2 separate regions of the Homo sapiens genome follow, and region 1 is linked to region 2. A link means that fine-mapping ties the variant in region 2 to the expression of a gene that starts in the linked region. Tissue or cell type: whole blood. Region 2 holds a variant in brackets; the other region holds the start of a gene. All regions are shown on one strand. Distances are between the middles of the regions.

The links. PIP is the estimated chance that this variant, and not a neighbour inherited with it, causes the effect. A credible set is the group of variants that fine-mapping cannot tell apart.
Region 1: it holds the start of MMP8, and the variant in region 2 is the best candidate, but not a certain one, in a credible set for the expression of MMP8 in whole blood (TOPMed, PIP 0.88).

What each region holds. Positions count from the first base shown.
Region 1 is chr11:102,722,771-102,727,159 of GRCh38, reverse strand. MMP8 (matrix metallopeptidase 8) reads left to right here and starts at 2,206. Exons shown (of 10, transcript NM_002424.3): 1 at 2,206-2,406. The coding sequence starts at 2,305. RefSeq lists an enhancer at 1,800-2,999.
Region 2 is chr11:102,689,403-102,693,791 of GRCh38, reverse strand. MMP27 (matrix metallopeptidase 27) reads left to right here. Exons shown (of 10, transcript NM_022122.3): 9 at 751-854; 10 at 1,782-2,305. The coding sequence ends at 2,026. Among named protein-coding and RNA genes, the nearest start is that of MMP27, 14 kb to the left of the region's middle. The variant C/T (reference allele first, on the strand shown) is at 2,543.

The sequences.
Region 1 (4,389 bases), 33 kb before region 2:
CTCATGTTATAATGAACAATACCTTCATTTTTAAAACTTTGTTGGCTTGTTTGTTTTTTCTAGCAAGATATCTACTCAACAGGCGAACAACTCCTGTTCGCACTGAAGTGTAAATGACTGATTTGATTTTTGGGGGAGAGAGCCTGAGAGAACTCAGTCCCAGGGACCAGAAGCAGGTGAGGCACAGACACCACGGAGGTAGACAGTGGTCAGGTGTGGAGAAAGGATTCAGAAGGCACAAGCTGGAGCCCTGAAAGCAAATGCAGTATAGCCTTCTCCACCACTGCACCAGGGCTGGGCCTGTTGGGGGAATCCAGACCCAACCGTTCAATTTTTTAACATAGCATTTACCCAAACACCAAAAACTAAGTTTACCGAAGTTTTAGATTCTCAACTAAATCACTTGCTGTTATGTTCAGAAGAAAGTACATTTATAAACCTTGTAAGCAAGCCATTGCATCAAAATAACTCAACATAGAGTTAGACCAATGTTAAGGCATTTTCGTGGAGGAAAAAGCATTTTTTCACCAAAGACCTAATGTAAAGAAAGCCACATTAAGCCATGAACTCAAGGAGGATGAACATGACCGTGATCTTTGAACAATTTGGCAGGAAGCTGTCACATTTATATTAATACAAAGAATGGGTTGCTACATCTCTGCATGTCTACATTCTACCTCTTCATGATCCGGTTCAAATTCCACCTCCCTCATGAAACCTTCCTTGATTTCACTCCCTCCACACCACTGCTGTTTCCTCCAAACACCCACAGCATTTTATCCAAACCTCTATTAATTTATCTCCAATACTCTAGCACCCATCACAGCATGTGGCATGTAGTAGATGACAGGAAATGTTTACTGAATGAATGTAGGAATATACATCATTAACATTAATCTGCTGTCCAGATATGTTCTAACCCAAGACACCTTTCTTTGGATCATTTTCAAAGTTCCTAAGTGACCTCAGGAAAGATCAGAACTCCTTATCATAGCATCTCAAATACACTCTTTACATATTAATACATGCTATGTATCATACATGTAGACACATGCATTTATACACAAGAATACCTGCCTTTACCAAATATGTATGCATATATGTAAATGAGTATTCACAAAGACTGTGTATGATAACAAACTACATGCATGTGGACTCAGAATAAGTGGGACCAGGTTACATGATTTGAAAAGCATGCCCAGGGGCCTCTGACAAACAGTCTCCTATGTAGCCATATTGTCTGGAAATCTCTCAGTGTCTTACTCCTTGAAGATGTACAACATCTCATTCTCCCTCTCCCTTGTCTTCTGCCTGTGAATATAAGCCAAAGTATCCAGCTGTTGAAGGCCTAGAGCTGCTGCTCCACTATGGCCCAGCCAGAGACTCAAGTGGGAGACTACCATGCAGAGCTTATAGTAGCTCCCAGCTCAGTCTCTCTAAACATACCCTCTGGGGTTGAATCCTGGCCCCTCCACAAATGAAACATGTGACTTAAACAGGTCATCTAAATGTCTCTGGATTTGATTTCATCTGTAAAATGGAGATAGTAATAGCATCTCCCTCCCAAGGCTATGTGAAGATGGATTGGGGTAATATGTGGAACACAGTACAAATGTCTGGGCAATCATAATTTTTTAGCAAATGTTCATTATTATCATCATCAGTATTGTTCTCTTTATCTTTTCCATGGAAAGTCTAACTTATAGACTAGGGATTTTCTAATATGTTGATACCAAACCACATCCTCCAGAAGCAGCTCTAGGCCCCATACAAAGCCTGCTTTGTAATAACACAGTCACTCATTCTCTCCACATACAATGAGGGAGGGTAAGTACAGAGATTCTCTAGTTGGGCTCCTTGGTCCCAAGATATCTACCACAAACCTCAAAATATTCCCCTGCATAAGTTAATTCAACCTCAACATCTTACATAGTCAAAAAATGTATCCACATAACTTCAGGATTAGTCCCTTGTTCCTTTTCCTCAACCAATTTTGTAAAAGGAAATAACTAAAACATCCAAAAGCAAAGAGTAGAAAGTTGGAGTTTTGAAAGACTGTTGAAAGACTCCCCCATTTGGGGGTACTAAATCACATTATAAAATTGCAAAACTGTCAGAGTGTAATTAACCTATGTTGCTTCATATTCCTGATGCAGCAATTGTTTAAGACATGGCTTTAAAGAGGACTGCAAGAGAGCTGTGAGTGACACATGATGCTGTGAACGTCAGGGTGCTCGCCAGGGAAGGGCCCTACCCAGAGGGACAGAAAGAAAGCCAGGAGGGGTAGAGTTTGAAGAGAAGATCATGTTCTCCCTGAAGACGCTTCCATTTCTGCTCTTACTCCATGTGCAGATTTCCAAGGCCTTTCCTGTATCTTCTAAAGAGAAAAATACAAAAACTGTTCAGGTAAATGAACTATCAGTTAGGTGATGTTTGATTTGCTGATTATTAGGAAATAGTGTGGGTTGTTTTCTCTTGTTAATTAAAACAGCCTGAAAGAAATTATTTGGGTGATTAGTTTGAGATTGAACATCTCCTTTTAGTGATTTGGAGGGTTCCAAGCTGGTAAGGACTAGGCCTTTTAAAAGCCGGACATGAAAACAAGCTGAATTCTTTAAAGGCTGGGAAAATACTGCTGTAGAGTTACCCCTAGTTGGGAAACTTTTGTAGAAGAAATGGTTTTATTTATAAAATGGTATCATTTTCTTTCTCATTTACCTAAGGTTTTTCCTTCCAGGATATCTGCAATCAAGTTACTATATGTCTGGTGCTTCCATACAGGCATTTTCTTTGCCGCCAAAAATTCCAGATATAGAAAATAATGTGAGGATGGTAGATTACAATGAACTAGAAATCAGTACACAGTAAAATCATATTTCCCAGCATCAGATTGTGGACTGTTTATAAACTCTTGGAAGCATTATAAAAGCAGAACCAATAGTTTTTTTCCATTGTTTCACAGTCTGAAAGTGAACCCAAATTTTTAAGAAACACAAGGGAATTCTGTCACAAATCTCTCATGCACAGTTTTCTTAGCATTATAGTTTGGAGAAAGCATTATTATTATTAAGAGGTTATCTCTTAATTGTAACCCCCGGGTTAATGTAAAGTCCATTGAGTGCTTATTCTATGCAAGGCAACTGCTACACATTTCACAAATATCTCATTTAATCCTCACAAGAACCTTATTGGAGCATTATTATTTTCATTTCAGAGACAAAAATATCTTAAATCAGATAAATAATGTGGCCAAGTGCTCACAGTTAATTCATGGCAGAGTTAAGATTTGAACCCAGGCCTGTCTGATTCCAAAGCGTGTGATCTGGTCAGTGTCACCTACTGCTGTGGTTAGAGTGTGTCCCTTGAATTTATGTGTTAAAGATTTAGTAGCCCATGTGACAGTGGGTCCTTTAAGAAGTACTTAGGTCATTAAGAAAGATTAATGACACTCTTGTGTGACTGGATTAATTTTTGCTGGAGTGGGTTCTGGCTCTTGCAGAACTGGATTAGTAATTAATAGAATGGGTATTATAAAGAGGGGCTGCCCTTTGTGTTTTGCCCCTTTTCACACATGCTTGCTCCCCTTTTGTTTCTCTGCCATGTTATGACACAGCACAAGGCCATCTCAGAAGCCAACCAGATGCAGCCACCTGATCTTGGACTTCCCAGCCTCCAGAATTGTGAGAGAAAATCAGCCCCTTTTATGTATAAGTTACCCAGCTTCAGATATTCTGTTATAGCAACAGAAAATGGACTAAGACACTGACAAGGTGCCAGGTGTTCACAGGCAGCATGAGGTCTAGTTAGGTTACATTTCACTGTGTATGAAGAAACTTTTAAGCCAAACTTAAAATAGGTAATTTTTAGGCTAAACTCTTTGGATTTTGACTAAATTTAACACTTCCAAAGAGTTACTTTGGTGAATAAAATGCTAATATCAATGATATTGCTGTTCCCCTAAAAGATATTTGAAATTATTTTGAAATTATCAGTTCTCATTTGAGAGGCAACATGGTGAGTTAAAATCTGAATCATCACTTGGAAAATTCCTTAATTCTCTGTGCTTCTGTTTGTTCAGCAGAATAAATAAGCCTTTTCTACAGTAGTGAAGAGGATAAAAAAGAGGAACTGCACTGATGCAACAAATACCTCAAGAGAAGTCAATTAATGTTAGTCCTAATTTTTTTGTAAAAACAAGAAGACAGTCTCCTGACTGTAGAGTAGCACTTTGCCTGTGTGATGTGATCCTCATCCCTTATGAGACACCCTTTTTTATGCATAACCATTAACTGGAGCACTGAGTGGAGGAACTGTTCTTTCTAAAAAGAGTTGTTCTCTCAAAGCCAACCTACAAATTAATTTGTGTTATTGTTCCTGTGGCTGTCAAGT
Region 2 (4,389 bases):
TTTTTTTGAGATGGAGTCTTGCTCTGTCTCCCAGGCTAGAGTGTAGTGCTGCAATCTCTGCTCACTGCAGCCTCGACCTCCTGCTTTCAAGAGATCCTCCTGTCTCAGCAACCCCCAAGTAACTGATACTACAGGCATGTGCCACCACGCCTGGCTAATTTTTGTACTTTTTGTAGAGATGGAGTTTCACCATGATTCTCAGTCTGGTCTCGAACTCCTGGGCTCAAGCGATCCACCCACCTCGGCCTCTCAAAGTGCTGGGATTACAGGCATGAGTCGCCACGCCCAGCCCATAGTCTTCTTAAAGTGAATAATGAAGGCAGTGGATGACATTTATCAAGCCGAAAGAGATCTCAATGAGTCTAATGACTTTCCTTCAATTTAAAAAAAAAGATAAGATAAAATAAAAAGTTGGTGATCCCAACCAAATTGCCAATGACACAAACATATCTAGTGAAAAATTTTGAAAGCTCCAAGCTCAGCCTTCAATCTGATGTAACGATTTCTCTGAATAGCATCAATCTAACATATGTTGTGCCCTTTTTCCCTGATCATTTCTTGTTTGGAAGATTCTATAAATGATTCAACCAAACATAATCTTTACTGTATTTTTATTATTGATCCAATTAGTTTTCCTCTACTATGCCTATGTATTCCCCACATCCCTGCTTGACTCTAAGTTGTGCGGTAGACAAATTAAGCTCCCCAAACCAAAGATCCGCTGGTATCCTTTCATATTCTTGTATGCAGGTTTGATGAAATGACCCAAACCATGGACAAAGGGTTCCCGCAGAGAGTGGTAAAACACTTTCCTGGAATCAGTATCCGTGTTGATGCTGCTTTCCAGTACAAAGGTAAGCATGGATGTCTCACTTATTGGGATACTTGAGAGACTGTGTTGACTGTGAAAAAAGACAGCACAAAAACTTAAATGCTTTTATTTTAATGCAATTTTGCTACTCTTAAGTATATACAATAATAAACATTAACCCCACAAACATTATCACAAACTGAATCCATAAATCCTGAATTATACTCTCTGTTATACTATCTCAAATCTATGTAAAAAGTACCAAATCCATTTTACTCATCATTGATAAGTAAAGACACCCCCTAAAGTGTGCGAAGTGACTAAGCACATGAACAAAACAATGATTCTCAAACTTTAATGTATGTACCTTAATGTACATAGCTTGGGGTTTGTGTGTGAAACAAAGTATTTGAGGCAGAATTGTGAGTGATACCTAAGAATCTGCAGTTTTAAAAGAACCTCAGGCAATGTAATGAATACAATCCAGCAACTATATCATCCAAGACAATGACCTAGACCATGGGGTAATCTAGAAATATCTTTGAGTGACATGATCTATTATTACAATGAAATCTAACACAGAACCTCAAAACCTAAAACAGATCAAAGTAGAACGGCTCTAAGAAAATGAGAATATAGAGACCAAGGCCATATCCACAGGGGCCTTTTCCTCCCCCTCACTGAGACACTTTGTTGAAGCCTAGTTTGAAAACCTCTGGCATAGACCACAGTCTGGCTAGAAAGGTAAAAAGTCCCTTGAAACTCACCCTTTATAACACTGGCTTCCTCCTTAGGGAAATAAAAATAATAGGATTTCCCACATGACAGTAGAAAACTAAAATGTATGTATGTGATTCCACAAATTTCTTCGTTCTCCATAATGTTATTTTTTTCCATGTTTATAAAATTTAAAAGTATGGAAGTATTATATAGTTATGAAAGATAACTAATCCTGATTCCCTGTCTCTAGGATTCTTCTTTTTCAGCCGTGGATCAAAGCAATTTGAATACGACATTAAGACAAAGAATATTACCCGAATCATGAGAACTAATACTTGGTTTCAATGCAAAGAACCAAAGAACTCCTCATTTGGTTTTGATATCAACAAGGAAAAAGCACATTCAGGAGGCATAAAGATATTGTATCATAAGAGTTTAAGCTTGTTTATTTTTGGTATTGTTCATTTGCTGAAAAACACTTCTATTTATCAATAAATTCATAGACCTAAAATAAACCTCAACAGGTCTTTTAATATAAATTCTGCTTCAAAATAGAATAAAACCATTCTTTAACAACAAGTTGCTGGTCCTAGTTCTAAATATCCAAATTCAATGGCCATTTTGAGCTGCCTGATTCTTTTAATAGGAAGTTATTATGTAGAAACAAAAATCTCTGACTGTACTTTAAGCCTATTTCATGCTTTGTGGACTTGGAGAAGACATGTCTTATAACTGAATACTGAAACATTTATTAAACCAATCTTTAGCATTCTATTTTGTCTGGACCTTTGGAGTTTAAGAGCCCCAATAAACTACAGTGCTCATCCCTATGCATGTTCTGAACCCATCAATCAAGTAAGTTACTCCACCTCCCAAAGAGAAGGGTGACAGCCTGGATAGATGCAGGGTGAGTTACGTTAGAGGTTATTCTCTGACAAGTAAGGAACTAGCAGAAGTAGGAGAGAAGTGTTCCCCCAGCCTCACAAACATTGACCAACGCCGTTAAACATT[C/T]CTTAGGGAATATAAAATTAAGTTTTCTGCACACTGATTTCAGACACAAGAAATGTGAGGATTTTCATCCTGTGTTTGTGGTATATGTGCATCATCTGAGCCTATGGGTAGAAAGTTTCTGTACTCTTTGTTCCATCATGGATTTGTTGACTTTCTAAATGCTTATGGCTTGATTTTATCATTATACCCTCAAAGTTAAGTGCTTAGCAAAGCTCTTAACAAAATTTTTGACCCAGAAAATGGGAGATTATCAGTGGAACTTGCTTCTGATGAGGTGATATATTGGGCATTACGTCAACTGATAGAAAATAGGCATAGAAAATCACACAAATTCCTACAGTTGGTCCCCACCCCCACTTCCCTGGAGTTCAGTGTTCCCAGTTGCCTAAAAGAAGAGGTGCATAAAAGAGTTATTCTATGTTTGAAACACAAAGTAAATTTTAAGAAGTACAGCTTAACACTCAGCAGGTAGTAGTTAGTAGTCTTTGTGAAAAAAATATATAGTGCTGGAATAATCAAATATCCATATGCATGAAAAAAGAATGTTGACCCCTACCTCACACTATTCACAAAAATTAATAAAAATGTGCCATAGACCTCTAAATATAAGAAATAAAATTATAAAACTTGCAAAAAATATTTTTTAAAAAAATTTTGGGACTTTGGACTAAGCAAAGATTTCTTAGGTAGAACATAAAAACTATTAACCATTAAAAAATGAATGAATTAAACTTTAACATTTAAAACCTTTGCTTTCAAAAAACAATATTGAAAGAATAAAAAGTTGGCTGGGCACAGTGGCTCCTGCCTGTAATCCCAGCACTTTGGGAGGCCAAGACAGGAAGATTGCGTGAGGCCAGAAGTTCAAGACTAGCCCAGCCAACATAGCAAGACCCTATTTCTATATAAAACATATAATTAAATAAAATTTTTTTTCCAGGCGTGGTGGCTCACACCTGTAATCCCAGCACTTTGGGAAGCTGAGGTGGGCGGATCATGAGGTCAGGAGATTGCGACCATCCTGGCTAACATGGTGAAACCCTGTGTCTACTAAAAATACGAAAATTAACTGGGCTTGGTGGTGCGCGCCTGCAGTCCCAGTACTCGGGGGGCTGAGGCAGGAGAATCGCTTGAACCAGGGAGGTGGAGGTTGCAGTGAGCCAAGATCGCGTAACTGCATTCCAGCCTCATGACAGAGTGAGACTCCATCTCAAAAACAAAACAAAACAAAACAAAACAAAACAAAACAAAACAAAACAAAAGAAAAAACTGCTGGGCTGGGCGCAGTGGCTCATGCCTGTAATCCTAGCACTTTGGGAAGCCAAGGCAGGTGGATCACAAGGTCAGGAGTTCAAGACCAGCCTGGCCAAGATGGTGAAACCCTGTCTCTACTAAAAATGCAAAAAATAATTAGCCAGGTGTGGTGGCAGGTGCCTGTAATCCCAACTACTCGGGAGGCTGAGGCAGGAGAATCGCTTGAACCCAGGGGGCAGAGGTTGCAGTCAGCTGAGATCACGCCACTGCACTCCAGCCTGGGCAACAGAGTGAGACTCCGCCTCAAAAAGAAAAATAAAAATTTAAAAGGATGAAAAGTCCAGCTATACACTGGGGAAAAAATATTTTCAAAACATATATCTGATAAAGGACTTGTATCTTAAATATATAAAGAATTCTTATAACTCATAGATAAGACAAACAGCTCATTTTTTTTTTTTTTTTTTGAGACAGGGTCTCACTCTGTTGCCAAGGCTGGAATGCAGTGGTGCAGTCTCAGCTCACTGCAACATCTGCCTCCGGGTCTCCAGCAATTCTCCCACCTCAGCCTCCCAAGTAGCTGGGATTACAGG